Linked DNA regions of Homo sapiens: region 2 is linked to region 1. Evidence: fine-mapped expression QTL. A gene starts in region 1. The other region holds a variant in brackets. All regions are shown on one strand. Distances are between the middles of the regions.

Evidence for each region. PIP is the estimated chance that this variant, and not a neighbour inherited with it, causes the effect.
Region 2: its variant is the best candidate, but not a certain one, in a credible set for the expression of HLMR1 in liver (GTEx, PIP 0.88).

What each region holds. Positions count from the first base shown.
Region 1 is chr3:142,924,062-142,929,442 of GRCh38, forward strand. HLMR1 (hepatic lncRNA metabolic regulator 1) reads left to right here and starts at 2,614. Exons shown (of 5, transcript NR_038455.1): 1 at 2,614-2,835. RefSeq lists an enhancer at 5,106-5,381.
Region 2 is chr3:142,942,481-142,947,861 of GRCh38, forward strand. It overlaps HLMR1 (hepatic lncRNA metabolic regulator 1), which reads left to right. Exons shown (of 5, transcript NR_038455.1): 5 at 1-56. Among named protein-coding and RNA genes, the nearest start is that of HLMR1, 18 kb to the left of the region's middle. The variant G/A (reference allele first, on the strand shown) is at 2,394.

The sequences.
Region 1 (5,381 bases):
TAATTTTGGGAAATTCTTAGTCCTTATCATATCAAATATTTATTCTGTTCCTTTCTCTCTTTCTTTTCCTTCTGATAGTCCCATTACACATATGTTATACCATTTGTAATTGTTTCAGAGTTCTTAGAGATTCTGGGGTTTTTTTTAAGTCGTTTTTTCTCTGTGCTTATCAGTTTGGGAGGTTTTTACTGAGATATCCTTATGCTCAGAGATTCTTTTCTCAGCCATGCTCATTCTACTAATAAGCCCATCAAAGGCATTTTTCATTTCTTTATTATTGTTATTATTTGAGTCAGGTTCTCACTTTGTCACCCAGGCTAGAGTGCAGTGGGGCAAACATGGCTCACTGCAACCTCGACCTCCCAGCTTCAAGTGATCCTCCTGCCTTAGCCTCTCAAGTAGCTCGGACAACAGGCATGCCACCATGCCCTGCTAATTTTTGTATTTTTTGTAGAAATGGGGTTTTGCCATGTTGCCCAAACTGGTCTTGAACTCCTGGACTCATGATCTGCCCGCTTTGGCCTCCCAAAGTGCTGGGATTACAGGCATGAGCCACCATGCCCAGCCTACATTTTTCAATTCTATTGCAATGTTTTTGATCTGTAGCATTTCTTTTTGGTTCTTTCTTAGAATTTCCATTTCTCTGCTTACCTTGCCCATCTGTTCTTGCATGCTGTCCTCTTTATCCATTAAAGCTGAGCACATTAATCATAGTGGTTTTAAATTTCTGGTTTGATAATTTCAACATCTTTGCCATATCTGAATCTGGTTCTGATACTTGTTCTGTCTCTTCAAACTGTGGGTTTTTTTTTCTTTTTTGTATGTCTTGTTTTTGTTTTTGTTTTTCTTTTTTGGATAGCAGGAATGATACGTGTCCTGGGTAAAAGGAACTGCTGTCAACAGGCCTTTAGTTAGGTGGTGGTAAGATCTGTGGGGAGAGGAAGTGTTCTCCTCAGTCTTTCAGTGAGCCCATTACTCTGGATTGTGAACTTCATGTGCCTCTAGGTCCCTTCCCCCACCTCACCTTAGGTGGGACAGGATGGCTGGAATGGACTTGAGTTGGATATTTAACCCCAGCAGGTCAGGCTCTGGTTACATAGTTTCTCCTGAGGACAGACCTTGTTAAGAACATAATGCTCTAGCATATTTCAAAATGGCTCCTTTTCCCCTCCCACTGCTGGAAGCAGGAGGGGATTTTTTTCCCTAATATTCACTGTGAGACCTGGTAGTGCTCCTGGAGGTAAAACCCACAAAAGTGTGGGGACCTCTCTATGATTCAGTTCCCCTGGATTTTTATCTCTCAGACTTGTTCACACTTGTCTGAGAACTGGCTCCAGCAATTCACAGTTACAAGTTCAGACTTTTCTGTGCCAGCACTGGTTCCCATGGAGGTTTCTGCTCTTGAAGTTGTGATTCTCTGTATTTGCCTGTTGGTCTTCCCAATTTTGGGGGAAGCAATTTGTCCTGTGCCATCACTTCTCTTATAGAGCTAAGAAGAGTTGTTGATTTTTCACTGCTTTTTTTTTTTTTTTTTTGAGACAAGAATATCGCTCTGTCACCCAGGCTGGAGTGCAATGGTGCAATCTCGGCTCTCTACAACCTCCACCTCCCAGGCTCAAGCAATTCTCATGCCTCAGCCTCCCGAGTAGCTGGGACCACAGGTGTGCACCACCATGCCTGGCTAATTTGGTTTTTCAGTTTGTTCAGCTTTTTACTCATTAGGACAGAGTGGCAACTTCCAAATTTCTTACATGCTGAACCAGAAACTGTTTTGTTAGTTTTTTAGGATTCACTTTAAGTCTTTTCCTCCAGGGAGACTTCCCCAACTTTCAGGTCTGCATTAGGGACCCCTATGATGTGCTCCTGTAGATGCTTTTTGTTTCCCATAGCTTTTATACATATTGTGATTGTCAATTCACTTGTCAGATTCCCCCGTTAGACTGTTGGCTCTGTGTGGAAAGGACGGTTTGCCTTACTCATTCCTGTATTCTCAGCACCATCCATCAATGCCTGACATATAATAGGTATTGAATAAATATGTGTTGGGTGAATAAATGAATGAATGGAAGAGCTTATTCTCTGTAATTACAAATAAATTAGAAGCAGCTGTTAAATATAATTCATTCATTCAATCAATCACTATTTACTAAAAGCCTATCATGTGCCAGGCACTAGGTTAAGAAACTGATGATGAAAAAGCCACATAAATATGGAAACATGTTTGTAACACAATCTAATGAAAAAAAACCAGAATACATGTATGTACACCATAATTTAAACTCTTTAAAATATGTAGGAGGCAGGCTGGTATTGCACAGTGGTTTTAAGATTTTCTATTTTTAGTTAAAGTCTCTTTCTTCAAATGAAATCTTAGAAGGACAATGTATAAAACATAAAAAGCAAGATTTTCTGCTTGATGCGGGGGCAGAGGCCAGAGCCTGCCTACCCTTTTCCTAGTCTGCTCTCCTGTCTGTCCTCTGTGCTACTGCCACCTTCCCAAGCCAGAAGTAAGCCACTGTGGCACCTTCACAGAGGATTATTTGAAAATTCCCAAAATAGACTTCTGGTTAAACATTGCAGTTTAAAAACCTGTGTTTTTCTTTCATCTCTTTCAAAATGCTACTAAAATGACAGCAAAGAAGCCAAAAAGGCCCAAGTCCACAAGACAGAAAGAATAGGTGAAAAGTCCATGTCATCTCATTTTTGGAGATGGACATGGACAGGGGCTGAAACTGCAGTACCAGCAGATGGGGAGCTTAAGAAGGAAGCTAGTTCATGGCACAGCACCCGTAAAGTCCCCAGAATTGGAGGCACCAGATTCTTCTGAAAGAAAAGGTAAGAGGCGGAGCTGAAAACAGGAGGTTTATGGAAAGTCCTTGGAGAAAGCAGTCAGACCTCTGGATTCCTTCCTCATCTTTCAGCAGCCTCTCTCTTGTCCTGGCAGAAACCAGGTTTACTCTCTTGGGAAACTCAACCACAGGAGGATCTGGGGACACAGACCGGCGAAGGATGGTAGAGATGCATCACTGAACTAGGAGAATTAAATGATTGGCTTAGGGTTGGGAATGCGACCTCAACTGGATCAGTTGAGGCCATCCTTGGCATTTTTAAATTCTGAAGCTGGAAGTGTGGGGAGGATAGTGTGTGTATTCTGCAGGTGTTGAGGTCCTTGTTCTAGTCCTTGAGATTCCTGGCTCCGACTGTTTCCTGTAACTCTTTAATTCTATGAAACACCCAGTATTCTTCTATTTTATTCTGCTCAGGCTGCATTAACAAAGTATTACAGACTGGGTGGCTAAAAATGGGAATTTAATTCCTTGTGACTTTGGAGACTAGAAATCTGAGATCCAGGTGTCATGGAGGTTGGTTTCACTCTGGAAACTCTCTTCTTGCTTGCATATAGGCCTCCTCTCTGTGCCTTCACTTGGCCTTCCCTCTGTGTGTGTCTTTGTCCTAATCTCACTTTCTTACAGGGACACCAGTTAGATTAGATTGGGATCCATCCGAATGACCTCAATTTACCCTGATTACCTCTTTAAAGGCCCTATGCCAAATATGGTTATATTTGGAGGTTCTGGGAGTTAGGACTTCAACACATGAATTGTGGGGGGACAAAATTCAGCCCACAATGCCTTCTACTATTGCCAGCAAATAAATAGCTTTTGAGATAACTTAAGAGATTTTAAATTTAGTTTCTGGTGCTTGCACGCAAAGAGTTCTGACTTATACTATTCACTTGCCTCTTGGATATTGCCTTTTGTCCATTATAGTTGTCATTAACTGTTATTTAAATCCGCATTACCATTCACCTTTTCCTATGTTTCTGTTCCTTAAGATGGGAGGTAGATCATAGTTTGCATAGCCCATGGAGTCAGATGACCAAAGTTGTAAAGTTCTGTTTGCTGGCTGCCTGATCTTGGTGAAGTTCTCTGTGCCTCAATTTCCTTATCTGTAAACTGGGGATGGTGATAATAACAGATATTCACAGAGTTGTTGTGAAGATTAAACGTCTTAATGAATGTAAAGCACTTAGACCAACCTGGCTTATGGCGAGTGTTACATAAGTTCATGCTATCATTTATTCATTCAGTAGTCTCTATAGGGAATAGCCATGTGCCATGGATGTGGTAGATACTTAGTAAATATTCATTCTCTCTTGTTAATGTATGTGTTATAATAAGTGATTCTCAAAGTTATCTTCAAATTCTTATTACTCTGTATATTGTTATCTGCCAGTGTAATGATATCTAAAGCACATATCTTAAATACTTTAAACAATCTGATATAACAAACAAAGATAGAGCCATTTTCTTCTACATTGGAAGCTGTGCTGTGTAGGATGAGAGACTGGGGTGGAAGTAGGGATTGCAGGCTTCTGGTCCTGGCTATACCCTCACACTGTGAGACTCTGAACAAGCCTATACTCTCTGGGCTCTGCCTCCTTTATTTACACACCAAGGCTGGACTATGTAAGCTTTAGGCTCTTTAATGTTTTATATCACTTATCTTTGAAAGGCCATCTTAGGTGAGCTGCTCAGAGTCTTTAAAAGCTACATTTCCCCCTCCTTTCTTACTTTAAATATAATGGTAATTAAAATGTTTCGGAATTATATATTAGATGCATTTCGGGCATCAGTTACAAGAATGAGAAAGAAATTATTAACAGTTGGCAAAGATTAGTATCAGTTATAGTATCTTGTTATAAGTTTAGAATTTTATTTTCTAATGAGTAACCTCTCCTCCACCACACAAAAAACTAGTGTGCTAACAAAAGAATTAAAAAATGGGATTTTATTTGATTGGATTTTAACTTCTTGGCCATTCTTAATATTTTTGGAATAGGCTTTTGAGTCCTGACCTTCTAAGTCAATTTGTTAGTCTGCATCTGTAGTGTCTCTGGCACGGCTGGGAAGTGGTGGGGGGCGGGGGGTGGGTGGGTGCAAGAAAAGTAAAATATATGATGTTCACTCTTGACCAGCCTATTTTGTGCTGTGAACACCCACACTTGCACACAATACTCAGACATATTAACACATTTGCATGCACTCTCCAATATGTGCAAAGTAACATCACATTCCTTCTTTCATTCAACAAAAATGTGTTGATTGCTCACTCTGTTCCTGGGGATCTGTGTGAACCAAGACAAAGTTGACACTGTAGTTAGATATACCTCTCTGAATAAAAGAGTAAGTTTAAGGTAGAGTGAGGGTTAATTCTCTGTTTATAAGCCTCATGGGTGAATTCACACCGAGCAGCAGAGGGCAGTGTTCTCAGACAGGGCAGCTCTCCTGAGGATCTGCAAGGAAGCAGGGCGTGCCTTGTGTGACTGGTGTTGTCGAGCAGATCATTTTTTAACACCCCACTACTCCATACAGCATTAT
Region 2 (5,381 bases), 18 kb after region 1:
TAAACAGTTCCTCTATCACGCTTTTCACGTTAAATAAAGCAATCCCTTCAAATCAATTTTCTGTCATGTCTAAGATGTTATTATTTCATGGTATGGGTCAGGGGTCTACAGACTTTTTCTGTTAAGACCTAGATAGTAAATATTTTAAGCATTTCAGACCATACAATCTCTGTTGCAACTACTCAGTTCTGCCATTGTAGCACTAAAGCAGCTATAGACAATACATAAATGAGTGAGCATGGCTGTGAGCCAATACAACTTTATTTATGAATGCTGAAATTTGAATGTCAAGTAATTTCATGTGTCATAAAGTATTACTCTTCTTTTTTTTTAACCATTTAAAAATGTAAAAACTATTCTTAGTGTGTGGGCTGTACAAAAGCCGGCAGAGAGCCAGATTTGCCTGGGAGTTATAGTTTTCTGACTACAGTATACTTTATGGCCAGGAGCAGATTCAGGTTTTGTGGGGACTGAGCTCTTTACAATTAGGGGGCCCTCTTTAAGAAAAGGAATGCAAGACCAGGCATGGTGGCTCACGCCTGTAATCCCAGCACTTTGGGAGGCCAAGGTGGGTGGATCACAAGGTCAGGAGATCGAGACCATCCTGGCAAAACAGGGTGAAACCCCATCTCTACTAAAAATACAAAAAAATTAGCTGGGCATGGTGGCGGGCACCTGTAGTCCCAGCTCCTCAGGAGGCTGAGGCAGGAGAATGGCATGAATCTGGGAGGCTGAGCTTGCAGTGAGCCGAGATAGTGCCACTGCACTCCAGTCTGGGTGACAGAGCGAGACTCTGTCTCAAAAAAAAAAAGAAAAGAAAAGAAAAGAAAAGGAATACAAAATTACAAATATAAAATTAGATACGGTGCTTTGGAAGAGACCCATGCAAATGAAAGGCCCTGAAAATTGAGCCTCTTTGGCATCCTGGTGAATCTACTTCTAGTAACACTTGGACAATCTTGCTGCAAGGGTTCCCTGAACTGGCTGATCTTTGGAGTCACCTAACTACAGGTTCCAAAGCCCCAACAGGTTGCCTGAATTAGAATCTCTGAGGATAGAGCCTGGCAATCAGCCGTCTTGTAAAGCTCCCTAGGTAATTGTACTGTGAACCCAGGCTTGGCAACCACTATTTTAGTAACCATTTTATAACATCAAACAAATTCATTTGAACTGGTATCACAAACACACTCATTGCCTTAGTTGTGTTGCTTACCCAGAAATAGGTTTTAACTATTGTTATTGACCCATAGCCTGAATGTTTACTTATCAAGAATACCCTATTGTTCAATGACCTCAACAGAGAATATATAGATAACTTATGCTAGGCCATCTATCCCCTTTCTTTTTAATAAGAGTCAACACATATATAATAAGTTGGGTCTTCACCATTTGGGCTCATTTTAATATTTTTATGTATTAAATTTTATTTTAAAAACTATTGGTAATTTTTAAAAATCTTAAATCTTTGAGTTGGCATACAATTCAGACAATCTATAAAGTAAATAAATGGCTGTTGAAGAACATCTGACACTCATGATACCACAGTTGGGAGAGTCAAGTTTATAAACCTAGACATAAAGGTAGCAGTTGAGTCACTTGTTATTGCCTGATTAATCATCAAATGTATAGAAGACTCTTTTCATATCCCCTTATTATGCAACCTTTGTACTGTTCAAATTTAATATTATTCCCACAATGCTGAGATATCTTCTTGGTCAAAATTGAGTAGTTCTGTCTATAGAGTAGGTAGCATCTATTTTTGGCAAGATAAATGTGAAACAATGTTACTTTTAGTAAACAAATGCCTTGTCATTGCCAGCAATAAAGCTCTAGTGTCAACCAAAAGTTTCATTTTAAGGGTTGAGGAAAACCTATCCCAACTTTTTCAAATTACCTTTTTTAATAAGGACTTGAGAATTTCATATCCCAGAAAACATGCAAATATCAATTCTTCTAATTTTGTTCACTTATCGGAAGGCAAAACTACTTACTTTCCTGACTCAGAAGCACAAACAGAAAGTAAAGAATACTTCCTGATACATTGATTTTAACTGTTACTGGGGCAGTATTGACATAAATAGAAAATGAAGCTGCTTTTTTCATTGTTTGGAGGTTTCGTTTTTAGAAACTAGGGCAATATTATATCAAACTTGTTTCCTCCAACAAGGACTCCCACGTCTAGTAATGTATTCGTTTGTTCATTCATTAATTCATGCAAATATTAAATAAGTGCCTATAATGTGCCACATACTGTGCTGGGTGCTGAGGATCTCACTCTGCAGCCTGAGAACTTAGGTTCTAACAAGGAAAGGGAAACAATAAGCAACGGAATTTCACGTGGTGATATATGGTGTGTAGAAAGTAAAACAGGGTGAAGCCAGGTGAATGTACAT[G/A]TATGTGGGCATGAAGGGGACAGAGGCAACTGCAGCTGTTTTTTTCTTCTTTCTGTTTTAGAGATAGGGGTCTCACTATATCCCCAGCCTGGTTCAAATTCTTGGGCTCAAGGCCTCTAGTAGCTGGGACTACAGGAAGGAGCCACAGCTCCTGGAGAAGGGGAAGGGGAACCTACTTTAGATAAGTGGTCAAAGGTGGTGGTGACATTTGAGTTGAGATCCAAACGGTGGAAAGGAGCTGGGCATTCATATGAAATGGGAGAGTTCTCTGATCCACCTGCAGGATGTGCAGCAGGGTTGTGGCTCGCCTGTTTGGTTACTGTCACTGCTCAAACCCCTGACAGGAATGGCAGCATGCAGACGGGCAGGTGCAGGAGCCAGGGCAAGTGCTTTGGGCTCTGGCCCTGTGGTAGTGTCTAGGGGTGGGTGCCTGTGCTCCCGGTGTTACAATGCTCTTTCAGCCTTGCTGTCCATGGACAGCTTAAGTGTTAACCAGCTCAATGGATGCTCTACTTTTTTGCAAGGGCAAAGGGCCAGGGTGACAGCTTTCTATATCCTGAGCGCTTGCCTAGCATCCCAGAAGAATCTGGTCACACACAGGCTTGAAGGATGAATGTAGGGTTTTATTGAGTAGTGGAGGTGGCTCTCAGTAGGATGGATGGGGAGGTGGAAGGGGGATGGAGTGGGAAGATGATCGTCCCCTGGAGTTTGGCCATTCAGCAGTGGAACTCCTCTCTGACCACTCCCAGCTGAACTCTTGGCATTCAGATGTTCCTCCTCTTCTTTTTCTCTGCTATGCCATTTGTCTGCTTGTCTCCCCGTCTCCTTGTTGGCTCATCTGCTTCTGGAGCCCGGGGTTTGGGGTTTCTATGGGTACAGGACTGGGGAGCATCGTGGGCCAAAAGGTAACAGAAATGCCTGTTCCTACTTAGGGCTGAGAGTCTCCAGGCTTAAGGGTAGGGCCTTTGCTGGGGAACCATTCTCTTCTACCCCGTATTTCCCTGTCTCTTGTCCGTATCACAGAGATCTTAGGGAAGAGATATCTAGAGCTGTGCTGTCTAGCACAGGGGAGACTGAAGCTCTTGAAATGTGGCTAATGTCACATGTTGAAGTGATATTTTGGATATAGTTGCTTAAAGAAAACATTACTAAAATCAATTAAACACCTAACAATTGGCAGTATCTTTGCTGGATTCCTCATTACCAACATTTCTAGCACTCAATCTAAGTATAAGCACTACAACCCTGTCACTATCTCATGCTTGAAACAAATTAACATGGTTAACACCTATAATTCCACTAATTCAATTCATCCAATTGTTTGTACAGTTTTACACTTTTTTGTGGCTTTAGAAAATTAAAGAAATACATACATGGTTTACATTATATTTCTGTTGGACATCACTGGTCTAAAGAGAAAATCTTAATCCAGTTCTTGCACACAGGTCCCTTGGATCCTCATGGATTGGGTGTGTTATGAGTTTGACCTAGGCCAGGCACAGTGGTTCTTGTCTGTAATCCCAGCACTTTGGGAGGCTGAGGTGGGAGAATTCTCTGAGACCAGGAGTTCGAGACCAGCCTGGGTAACAAAGTGAGATCCCCGTTTCTACAAAAATTAAAGAGTTTGAGCTAATAAAAACACTAGCTACAATGTACTGAACAGTTATGGTGCGCCAGGTGCGGGGCAAAATTGCTTTACATCCATTCATTGTATCCTCATGCTGTGAATGGAAAGGGGTCCAGATCCAGACCCCAAGAGAGGGTTCTTGAATCTCATACAAGAAAGAATTCAGGGCAAGTCCATACAGTAAAGTGAAAGCAAGTTTATTAAGAAAGTAGAAGAATAAAAGAATGGCTACTCCATAGGCAGAGCAGCCCTAAGGGCTGCTGGTTGCCCATTTTTATGGTTATTTATTGATTGTATGCTAAACGTGGGGGGGGGGGCGTTATTCATGCCTCCCTTTTTTAGACCACATAGGGTAACTTCCTGACGTTGCCATGGCATTTGTAAACTGTCATGGCACTGGTGGAAGTGTAGCAGTGAGGACGACCAGAGGTCACTCCCTTTGCCACCTTGGTTTTGGTGGGTTTTAGCTGGCTTGTTTACTACAACCCGTTTTATCAGCAAATTCTTTATGACCTGTATCCTGTGCCGACCTCCTGTCTCATCCTGTGACTTAGAATGGCTAACCTCCCGGGAATGCAGCCTGGTAGGTCTCAGCCTTATTTCGCCCAGCCTCCTCTATTCAAGATGGAGTTGCTCTGGTTCAAACGCTTCTGACAATACCACTATGAAGTAAGAAATACTTCCCGCTCTATTTTACAGATGAGGAAATGGAAGATGAGAGGCAGAGTAGGTTGCCTAAGGTGATAAGAGGATGAAATAACGGCGCGAGAAGTCGAACCCACTCCAGATCCGCCCATGCAAGACACAAGAAGCCACAGGAGGAGGAAGGGGCAGGCGGGAACTTAGAGCACCTTGGCGTGCCCAGCCCGGCGCCTACTCCCTCTCCTCTGCGCCGCTGGAGGCCTCGAGTTCGTGTCCTCTCGGCGCCTGCCTGGCTCCCCTTCCGAGGCCGCAGCGCCCTGCCATGCTGGCCTCCCCGCGCTCTCCCTGAGACCCAAGCCGACTCCCAGGCCGACCCCGCCGCCTGCGCCCAGCTGTGTCGGATCTACCTGCCCGCGACCGAGGAGCTCAGGGACTGCCCCAGGAGATGCTGCCTCGCCCGACAGGCGCCCCGGCCCCTGCCACGCCTCCCGCGCCTGGAAAGCACGACATCCCGCAGGCAGCATATCTGAGCCTGCATCGGCCTGCGGGAGTCCAGCCCGAGCCATTTTCCTGCCTGTCCCCACTCCTGACAGCCTGTGCCCAGTTCCCCTCAGCTCTCCCATGGTTCTCCAACGGTCCTTTCTGGGAACCCTTACAGCTTGGAGATCGTCTCACGGTGACCAGGGTGTTTCTGAGTTGTGTGTGTGTGTGTGTGTGTG